2 separate regions of the Homo sapiens genome follow, and region 1 is linked to region 2. The links come from fine-mapping of genetic effects on gene expression. A gene starts in region 2. The other region holds a variant in brackets. All regions are shown on one strand. Distances are from middle to middle.

Region 1 (5,387 bases), 140 kb after region 2:
CATTCTGGCCAACATAATGAAACCCCGTCTCTACTAAAAATACAAAAATTAGCTGGGTGTAGTGGCACGTGCCTGTAGTCCCAGCTACTTGGGAGGCTGACGCAGGAGAATCACTTGAACCTGGGAGGTGGAGGTTGGAGTGAGCCGAGATCACACCACTGCACTCCAGCCTGGTGACAGAGCTTCAGTCTTAAAAAAAGCTTCAAATTGCCCATACTAATTTCATTAAAAAAAGTTACCAAGCCATGAGGTTCAACATGATTTTGGCATACATTTTGTTCTTAGAAGTATCTGGATCACAGGATAAAATCAGAAACGTTGGCATGACCCAACACACACACAGACACACACACACACACACACACACATACACACACACACAACACAGCTTTCTGATCAGCAGTTTTTGGAAATGGAGTATTGCTGTGGAAGTAGAAAGGGAATTTTCCTATTATTAGGGAACTACAAAGCGGTGGGCACTATGACAAACATCTGACTTTCATTACACGAATCCTCAGAAATCTCTGCAGTATGCCTATTCCTACATCACAGATGAGATACAGTTGTCATCTCTCCAAGGTTATGTAATTTGTGCCAAGTGATACAGCAAAATTGGAATGCAGGTCTCTAATCTCTAAGTCCATACTTTCCCTATTGTACTGCATTGCCTCCCCTAGGAAATTTCTTCCTCGATGACAATATCATGAGGAAAGTGAAACTATTGCTTGCCATTTCTGAGTTAATATCAGTGTTTTTTCCATCCTCTAGCATGGATAATGCAGAGATGCCACCAGTTCTGTTGGAGAGTAGAAATAATCTTAAGTTTGGTCTCCATCTTCCTAGCCACCCTAGCTCTTTTCCTGCCCAGATGCAAGAAACAATTCTCAAAGGACTGTGAAATTGATCTTTGGTGTGGGGAAAAGAAAACATAACCAGATGATGAATCAAGCACTGTGTTGCCTTTAGCATTTATTGTAGAATATTATGTAAAGTGAACTAAAATTTTGTTAAATACAAAATTGTCTTTAAGAATAGCATAATATATGCTTAAATCTCTGAGGTCACAGAATACGATTTTAAGTGCAAAATTGTCTTTAAGAACAGCAAAATATATGCTTAATTCTCTGAGGTCACAGAATACGATTTTAAATGCAAAATTGTCTTTAAGAACAGCATAATATATGCTTAATTCTCTGAGGTCACAGAATACGATAGTCAGGTGGTTGGCATTTTAGATAAATATGCAAAAACACAATGACCCAGAGAGGTAAGTAACTTCCCCCAGTCACATAGCAAATCAATGGCAGAATCAGAATTCAAATATAATATTTCATGACTCCTAAGGGCCTGAGCTCTTTCCAATACACCAATGGTTCTCAACTTCAGGGTATATCAGAATTACTAGAGACCATGTTCAAAGAAAAGATAGATGCCCAAGCTTGGACTAATAACTGTTGAATGAGAATCTTCAGGGTCAGGACATAGGTTTGTTTGTTTGAGCAACTTCCTGGGCAACCCTGCTATATGCCGAAAGTTGACAGCCATACTACTACACCATGCTGCCTTATGGAGTTATAGAAACGGTCTTCGCTAAAGCACTAAAAACGTCTAGATTAATCCTTTACATCTTATGAGAGTTACTAGTGAACTAGCAACAATTTTAACATTTTGTGAATTTTTGTTAATCTGTACATTGGGTATAATGGTTTTTGCTTAAATTAACGAACTTATTTGTGTTTGTTTTCAACTTAAAGCTAATTTGCAGAATTCATTGATTTGTTTTTACTCAGCACTCTAAAAATTCTCTAAAAAAAATTACAGTGTCTCTTTCACCTTGGGACACCAAATATTCCACAGAGATTGCCCCTTAGTTTAAGCAACCTTACTCATTTATTTTCCAAAAAAAATTAAGCAAATTTTGGTGGGTTATTGGGACTACATAATGTAGTTATTTTTGAAGAGAAAGACTTTTTGAAGAGAAAGACGTAGTAAAATGATTAAAGATCAAAGATTCTCATGATTAGAAAAGATTAGATTACCTTCAATGAGCCCCAGGAAGTAGAGGGCAAATCTCCTGTGGATACTTACAAAATGAGGTCATGTGGCTAACTAGTTCATTGTAAGAGACCATGTTAAAGGCCTCTGGATTGTTTCAAAAGCATTATATAAATGTAATGCCCCCACCCCAATTCCTACTTCTAATAAAAATGCAGTCTTGATGTCTGACTACAGAAGTCATACCCAAGGAGTTTATTTAAACCAGACAAATTTTTTTTTCTGGTTTTCTCTTTCTGCTGAATTTTCTTACTTAAGAGTTTGCAGTTTCTCTGTTGCCTCTGGGCTACAAGTAACTATTCATATAATTAGAAGAGTATCTTATGTTTAAAAACAAATTAAGGAGAGAAATACTTGCCTGTGTAATGGCAAGTCAATGGAACACTCCCAAAGTTTCCAATCTGAAATGCTTAGATCACCTTTCAGCTGTATCTTTCAGTGACCACAGAAATGTGTCCTACTCTTGTAAAGAACAAGGTTTCCTAAAATGGATCAACAGCAATCCCTCTGCTTGAGTTTTGATGATGGTGAGCAGCTTTCCAACTATTTACCTCTCAGTCTTGTGCCATCAAGTAGAGAATATGAGTTTATGCAATGAGAAGAAACAGGATAAGCTCTTAGAATTTAAAATAATTATATTGTTCTTTATTGGTGGGCTTTCAATGAAATTTCTGAAATTCTGTTTTTTCTTTACTCATTTTGATTTCATCTATTTTTCTTACTTTAATCTCTCACATTAGCAACAAACACACCAAAAAGAAAA[T/A]TTTTTTTAGAAGAGCTGGTGCTTATCCAGGTTCCATTTGCACCATTTCATCTTGTCCCTTCAGTCTTGTCATTATTATAAAAATAGAAGGTCTGCTATAAAGACTGGAGAAATTACATTACTTCAAGCTCCCACTGGCAGTTAATATAGAGGACTCAGGAAACACTTGTGTCCTCGTTTAGCAGTCGCTATCTGCTATCTCTCATCACAGTCATACAAACTTCAGGAATCAGGCTTCCATTCTATTGTAGTAATAGTTCTATTACTGATCTTACAGGAATTAATTTTAATTCAATAAGCAAAATTTGAGTCTTTTCAATGAATGGCATACTGTCAGGCATAAAGAGATGAATAAGAATCAAGGAGTTTACAAAGAAATTTTTTAAAAAGCCTTTAAAATAGCCACACATAAAATTAAATACCTAGGAATTAACTTGACCAGAGAAGTGAAAGATCTCTATAATGAAAACTATAAAACACTGATGAATGAAATTGAAGAGGACACCAAAAACTAGAAAAGTATTCCATGTTCATGGATTAGAAGAATCAATATTGTTAAAATGTCCATACTACCATCCAAAGCAGTGTACAGATTCAGTGCAATCCTTATCAAAATATCAGTAACATTATTCATAGAAATAGAAAAAAACAATCCTAAAATTTATTTGGAACCGCAAAAGACTGAGAATAGCCAAAGCTAACCTGAGCAAAAAAGAATAAAACTGGAGGAATCACATTACTTGACTTCAAATTATACTACAAAGCTATGGTAACCAAAATAGCATGGTACCAGCATAAAAACAGACACACAGACCAATAGAACAGAATAGAGAACTCAGAAAAAAATCCACACACCTACAGTGAACTCTTTTGACAAAGGTGCCAAGAATATACACTGCAGAAAAGACAGCCTCTTCAATAAATGGTGTTGGGAAAACGATATCCAGATACAGCAGAATGAAACTAGACCTCTATCTCTCTCCATATACAAAAATCAAATCAAAATGGATTAAAGACTTAGATCTAAGACTTCAAACTATGAAACTACTACAAGAAAACATTTGGGAAAATCTCCAGGACGTTGGTCTGGGCAAAAATTTATTGAGCAATACCCCACAAGCACAGGCAACCAAAGCAAGAATGGACAAATGGGATCACATCAAGTTAAAAAGCTTCTACACAGCAAAGGATACAATCAACAAAGTGAAGAGACAAGCCACAGAATGGGGGAAAATATTTGCAAACAACCTATCTGATAAAGGATTAATAACCAGAATACATAAGGAGCTCAAACAACTATACAGTAAAAAGTATAATAATCCGATCAAAAAATGAGCAAAATATTTGAATAACCATTTCTCAAAAGAAGACATACAAAAGACAAACAGGCATATAAAAAGGTGCTCAACATCACTGATCATTAGACATGCAAATCAAAACTACAATGAGATATTATTTCACCCCAGTTAAAATGGCTTATATCCAAAAGATAGGCAATAAAAAATGTTGTCAATGATGTGGAGCAAAAGGAACCCTCATATGCTGTTGGTAGGAATGTAAATTAGTACAACCACTACGGAGAACAGTTTGCATGTTCCTCAAAAAACAATAGAAATACCATATGGGCCAGGTGTGGTGGCTCATGCCTGTAATCCCAGCACTTTGGGAGGCTGAGACGGGTGGATCACTGGAGGTCGGGAGTTCAAGATCAGCCTGGCCAACGTAGCGAAACCCCATCTCTACTAAAAATACAAAAATTGGCCAGACATGGTGGTGCATACTTGTAATCCCAGCTACTCAGGAGGCTGAGGCAAGAGAATCACTTGAACTCAGAAGGTGAAGGTTGTAGTGAGCCAAGATTGTGCCACTGCACTCCAGCCTGGGTGACAGAGTGAGACTCTGTCTGAGAAAAAAAAAAAAAGAAAGAAATACCATATGATCCAGCAGTCCCACTGCAAGGTATATACCCAACAAAAAGGAAATCAGTATCTCAAAGAGGTATCTGCACTCCCATATTTGTTGCAGTACTGCTCACACTAGCTAAGATTTGGAAGCCACCTAAGTGTCCATCAATAGATGAATGGATAAAGAAAATGTGGTACATATACACAATGGAGTACTACTCAGCCATCAAAAAGAATGGGATTCAGTCATTTGCAACAACATGGATGGAAATGGAGGTCATTATGCTAAGTGAAATGAACCAGGCACAGAAAGACAAACATTGCATGTTTTCACTTATTTGTCAGGTACAAAAATCAAAACAATTGAACTCATGGACATAAAGAGTAGAAGGATGGTTACCAGAGGCTGGGAAGGCAAGTGGGAGGGGGTGGATGGGAATGGTAAAGGGTGGCAAACAATAGAAGAATTAATAAGACCTACTATTTGATAGCACAATAGGGTGACTATAGTCAATAATAATGGTACATTTTAAAATAATTTAAAGAGTATAATTGGATTGCTTGTAACTCAAAGGATAAATGCTTGAAGGGATAGATACCCCTTCTCCATGATGTGCTTATTTCATATAGCATACCTGTATAAAAACATCTCATGTACCCCATAA
Region 2 (5,387 bases):
TATCTTTTGGGGCCACTATTCAACCCACTACATTGCCTCTTTTTGTTATTATCTGTTATGGGTGGAACTGCGTTCTTCTCCGCCCCTGCCAGTTTCACATATTGAAGTCCTAACTCCCAGTACTCTAGAATGTGACCTTATTGGGAAATAGGGTTGTTGCAAATTTAATTAGTAAAGTTAAAATGAGGCCATTAAGGTGAGCTCTAAATCATATATGACTGGTATCTTTATAAAGGATAAATTTTGACACAGACATGAACATAGGGAGAATGCCATATGAAGATTATAGGAGACAGGGGTCATGTGTCTACAAGCCAACAAGAAACCACTGGAAGTAGGTAAGCATCATGGAAAATTCTCTCTCAAAGCCCTCATAAGGAACCAACCCTGCAGACATCTTGATCTTGGTCTTCTAGCCTCCAGAATTATGAAATAATACATTTCTATAGTTTAATCCACCCAGTTTATGTGCATCCTTATGACAGCCTTAGCAAACTAATACATTCTACATATATGAATAGCGTTTTAAATGGTGATAATCAAATTGTGGTTTTGTAATCTATAATTAATGTTGTATTTTATCTATGAACATCCCACTGAAAGTATGCTTTTAATTTCCTACTTTATAAACAACTCGGTAATAAATATGCAACTATGTACATGCGGCATTTCTCTTTTATGGATTATCTCCTTTGAATACATTGTAAGACATGGGAATCTAGGTCCAGAACAAGAAAAAATTTCGTTACTGAACACCTTGGGAATGTGTTGCTAAATTGCTTTCCAACAAAAGCGTGATTACAATTTACCTTCCATCTGCTATCTGTTAAGTGATTTCTATACGTTTTCACCAGCATTTGACATTATCATTTGAAGTGCTGTCACACACATTTTGAAGATACATTCAAATTTATTCTTGAGGAGGGGAGGGGTAACGAAAAATACTATAAATTTGGTTGTAACTTTTTTTCTGTCTCTTGCATTCAGGCGGTCACCAGAGGAAATTAGTCAGTGCCTTTAGGCTACACTTAGCTTAACACATTTCATTAAAGAGCCCAGTAGTAGAGAATTCAAGATGGGTGTTATTATTTTAATTTCATGAAATCACTCCTTAATTCTAACTTTCAAAAGTCAAATTTTATTTCTTTAATTGCATGTGGATTGTTATAATGAGGAGAATCAGAACAGCTTATAGGACAATATTTCTTTTCTATTTTTCTTAACACACCATATTTATTTGGAAATTTACCTCCTACATTGTCCAGGGAATTAGGATGGGCGTTGGCCGTTTTTCAGCACTTCCTGGTTGAGGCCAAGGGCTCCACTCACGTGCCTGTCCATCCCTCTACAAGGCTTCCCTGGCAGCTTGTTTTTCCGTTTAAAATTTAACAATGACCAAATCCCAAAAAAGCTACCAGGCTAAGAAATGAAACATCTTTTTTTCTTTTAAGTCCGGAGAAGTGCTGCTGAGCACAGCTGGCTCACTGCTGTTTCTGCGGCCCCCATCTCTGATCCTTTCTAGTCTCCTACCCACCCCCACCCCACCATAGGCAGGCAGAGCCGGATTTCTGCCCTTCAAACCCCGAGTGTGAGGAAGCCTCACCTGAAGTCCTCGCATCACCCTCCACCCTCACGCCCTTGGGTTTTAAAAAGCCACTGCGTTCGTGGGTCACTGCAGGGCGCCTCCGCAATGTCTTTAGCAGATACAAGAGCATCCCTCCCACGGGATGTGCAGTGTAGTCAAGCTGAGTAAACTGGGATTTTTGGCTGCCTTTTCTGCTAGGGTGGGTGGGGAAAGGTATGTCCCCCAAGCGTTCAGTTCAGACTAGAACCTTTGAATCTCTCTCCTGTCTCGGTCTCTCCCTCCACCCCCCTACCCCGCCACCTTTCACGGTGTGGGAGTTCTCCTTTCCCACACCAGAGAGGGGCGCCTTTCTAGCTTCCTTGTCCCCTCGCCCACTGATTAAAAAATGGAGAAAAAAACCAACCCCAAAACCCAAAACAAAACAAAACAAAAGCCCCAAACAAACAAACAAACCAAACCCACCGAAACCAAAACCAACTCCCCTCCCCCAAACCACACAAATGCGGGAGTCATAGCCAGTGGATCCGCTGGTGCTGAACGAATGGAAGCGCGGGGCGGGCCTGCGCGCGCGGCCGCCCTGCCCACGATGCTGTCGCCCCCGCGACCTGTAGGGCCTTCGCTGGCCCCTCACCCTCCTCCCGCCCCGGGCTGAGGCTGCCGCCGGTTTCGCGCCCAGTGCCGAGGCAGCGGCGGAGCCGGGGAAGGTCGGAGGGAGGGTGGTTTCCTCCCGCCCCACACCCAGTCTCCGAGCCGGATATATAGAGTGTCACGTTTGGGAGCCGAAAGACTGGAGCCGTTTCCTTGTGGCTGGAGCGCTTCCCGTAGCCTCGGGGAAGGAGCAGGATTTAGAGGACCACTAGTTGGACCCCATCCTCGTGCTGGAGGAACAGGTATTCCAGGGTCCCCAGCCCTGGCGCTCGCAGAGCCCACGCGCTCCAAAAGCAGAGACCGGACTGGGGGTGGCCCAGGAGGGAGGGCTCGGCTGGGTTCGCAGGGCGGGGCGGTTCCCGGCGGGACCTCGAGGAGGGTGGGTGTGAGGCCGGGTGGGAGGAGAGAAGCATTTGCGGAGGCTCTGCCCCCTGAAGCTGCCCCCGGCTGCACCCCAATCGTCACCGGCCGTTTACGCGCGGTTGGCGTCGGCGGAGCCCGCCAAGGTGGGGCGCGCGGGGGTTGCAAAGGGCAGAAAGCCGGGAAGGACCCAGCAAGGTTAATGTGGGGGGCCGCGCCTTGGGGACTGGGGACCCGGGAAGAGAGGCGCGGGGCCGAGTCCCACCCAGGCCTCCTGGGCCCTTGGGGCTATTCCTGGAGAGAGCGCGAAAATGCCGGGGCCACGTGTGAAACGGCAGCGGTCCTAGGTCCCCTCCCGGTGCCTGGGACCGCCAGGGCGCCCAGTCCTGGTCCCCGGAGCAGGTCCTCGCCAGCCCCCAGCCCCACCCCAGGCTGCGCACGTCCCTACCCTCCCACCTGGGCCTCGCCGGGGTCGTGGCTGACGCGCGCTGGGGCGACTGGTGAGGCCAGGGCGGGCTTTGCCCCTGTAGGAAGTTTTAGACATCTTCCTGCGGCCTGGGCATCCTGGGGGTGTGCAGGGGAGCAGGTGCCAGCAGACTCCCAACTGGAGTAGATGGCTTGCAGGAAGGCTGCTCAACACTCCTAGCAAGTAGAATTACCCGCGGGGCAGTCTCAGTCTATTAAAACAATTCATGCCCAATCGTATCCTACAAACCAGAGGAAGGCGTCTCACCTGCCAGCGGTGGCACCATTTCTTCCACGGTTGAGTTATGTGGTGTGAGCAACCAAGGTTATCGCTGGATCTGCAAGAGTTTGGCCACTCGTTGAATCACGTAAAGTGCCCCCATTATGTGATGAGCAAGGACAGAGTAGGGTCAGAAAAGTGACCAGGGAATTCAGGTAGATCGTGCTTTTCTGTTTGCTAGGTTGAGAGAAATTTGACACTGGGCAAATGGAAATTTGAGAATTACCCCGTGGTTTCAATTACCCATCTCTGTATATTCCCATTTATAAGAGCTGGAGATTTGACTGACAGGTGTAGTTAGTCCAAAATTTAGAAAGGGGGGCAAGGGACTAAATAAAAACTTAAGGCAGCCACCTAAACTGCAAGAGCAGGCATTTCCGCAGAAGGGATATTTGTGTGTGAGACTTCTAGGAGATGGGCATGAGGTTTTTACCAGGCCGACGCGTGTGTCAATATTTCATCGGTAGTATTTCTCAGGATCCACGTCTTTACAGTACTCTTTTCCTAATTCTGAGGGCTGCTTCTGCCCCTGCTGTATTAACAAATTCCTCACTTACTCCTATTTCTAACATTGGGCTATAATTATCTATAAAAGAGATGTAAATCACCATGAGTTGGTAAATCATACAGCTATTAGAGAAATTAAAGTAAATGAAAATATGCTTTCCTTAAAGGAAGCTAAAATGTGACATCCAGTTACAGAGGAAGAGGGAGAGGTTGAAAATAAATAAAATGGCTTATATTAGGGTATCACTTTGGGGTTTATAAAGCATATGATCATCTTGACCATCTCACCATCTGCTTTCCTATCTCCTGAGGAAGAAGCATTCTTGAGTGCATTTGTTTCTGGCAACGTCTCATCAGTGTTAAGAATTCCTTGATTTTGCATTAATTCCCATGCACTCATGAAAACTTACTTATTCACAAATATAGCCTTGTGAAGGATCATGCACAGTGACCACCAGCATGCTTGTCCCTACCAATATATTCTGACATTGTAGGCTCTGTTGGAACATGTATTACCTTTGAAGAGGGTAACAGACCAATTTGAGAATCTGATGAAAGCTATGGAATATGAAAGACAAATGCATACATATTAACACAAAATTCCACCTACAATTTCAGGAGTTCATGGCCTCCTTGATGCCCAGCCTCCTACATTCTAGATGTCCAGAGGCTCCAGGCAGGGCCAGCTTCATGGAAATACAAAACTGCAACCGCACAGGGCCTTGCACTTGGAAGGGCCCTGCGTTTGGTAATGTTCTGCTATCACCGTCTGCTGGCTTAATAATTTTCAAAGAGGCTCTGGATCTTCATTTTGAACTGGGTCCTACAAATTATATCCTGACCCCAGGCTGACAAACTTGGTCTAAAACTAACCAAATAACAGTGTTTGAACAGCAATCCCACATTTACGGTGAGTTCTCCAGTACAAACCTGAAATTTATCTGCTGCTCACTTAGGTGCTCTTGGACATGTCATTCAGTCTTCCTACATTTCAGTTTCCTCATTGACAAAATAAAGACAACAGATGACACCTTCTACTTTCTTTATTTTCAAGGTTGTACTATCTCTAAGTAAAAAGAGGTAATAATTGTAAAAAATGTCTACTTGCTTTGAATAGTTCTTTTCTAAAAAATATGCTGTTGTTGAAGGGTTAAACTTTGCCCTCCATTTTTCAGAAGTAGCTTGAGGAAGGTTGATTGAGCACACTGAAAAGACTGTAGAACCTTTCTGACCCTTATAGTTTGGTGGAAAATAAAACAAAAAGTAGGCAAGTATTCAGTGTGTTAAATACTCCTGAAATATCATTATTTGGACAAAATTAGAATTTTCAACTAAAGGTGCAGAATAACTTCTTGGATCCCAAAGGTAGTTATTGAATTAAATTAATGTTTGGGTCTAATTCATCCAAACGTCGAACGGTGAGAAAATGAGCCAATGACTGAAATTTTTTGAGGGGGTAATCCTTTTTGTTTCATTTAATTTAAAAAATCTGTAAGTTCAAAAGTTTGATCAAGTCATCCTTTAAAATATCCTAGGAAATGC

Direction of the effects. Alleles are on the strand shown, and positions count from the first base shown. SD is a standard deviation of normalised expression in the study named.
As copies of T replace A in region 1, the expression in iPS cells of the gene that starts at base 2,346 in region 2 goes down (small effect, 0.40 SD a copy in HipSci).

The links. PIP is the estimated chance that this variant, and not a neighbour inherited with it, causes the effect.
Region 1: its variant is the best candidate, but not a certain one, in a credible set for the expression of FAR2 in iPS cells (HipSci, PIP 0.73).

Annotation. Positions count from the first base shown.
Region 1 is chr12:29,285,722-29,291,108 of GRCh38, forward strand. All of the region lies in intron 2 of FAR2 (fatty acyl-CoA reductase 2), which reads left to right. All of the region lies in intron 5 of FAR2-AS1 (FAR2 antisense RNA 1), which reads right to left. Among named protein-coding and RNA genes, the nearest start is that of FAR2-AS1, 29 kb to the right of the region's middle. The variant T/A (reference allele first, on the strand shown) is at 2,819.
Region 2 is chr12:29,146,933-29,152,319 of GRCh38, forward strand. It overlaps FAR2 (fatty acyl-CoA reductase 2), which reads left to right and starts at 2,346. Exons shown (of 12, transcript NM_001271783.2): 1 at 2,346-2,475. RefSeq lists silencers at 2,194-2,253, 2,564-2,713.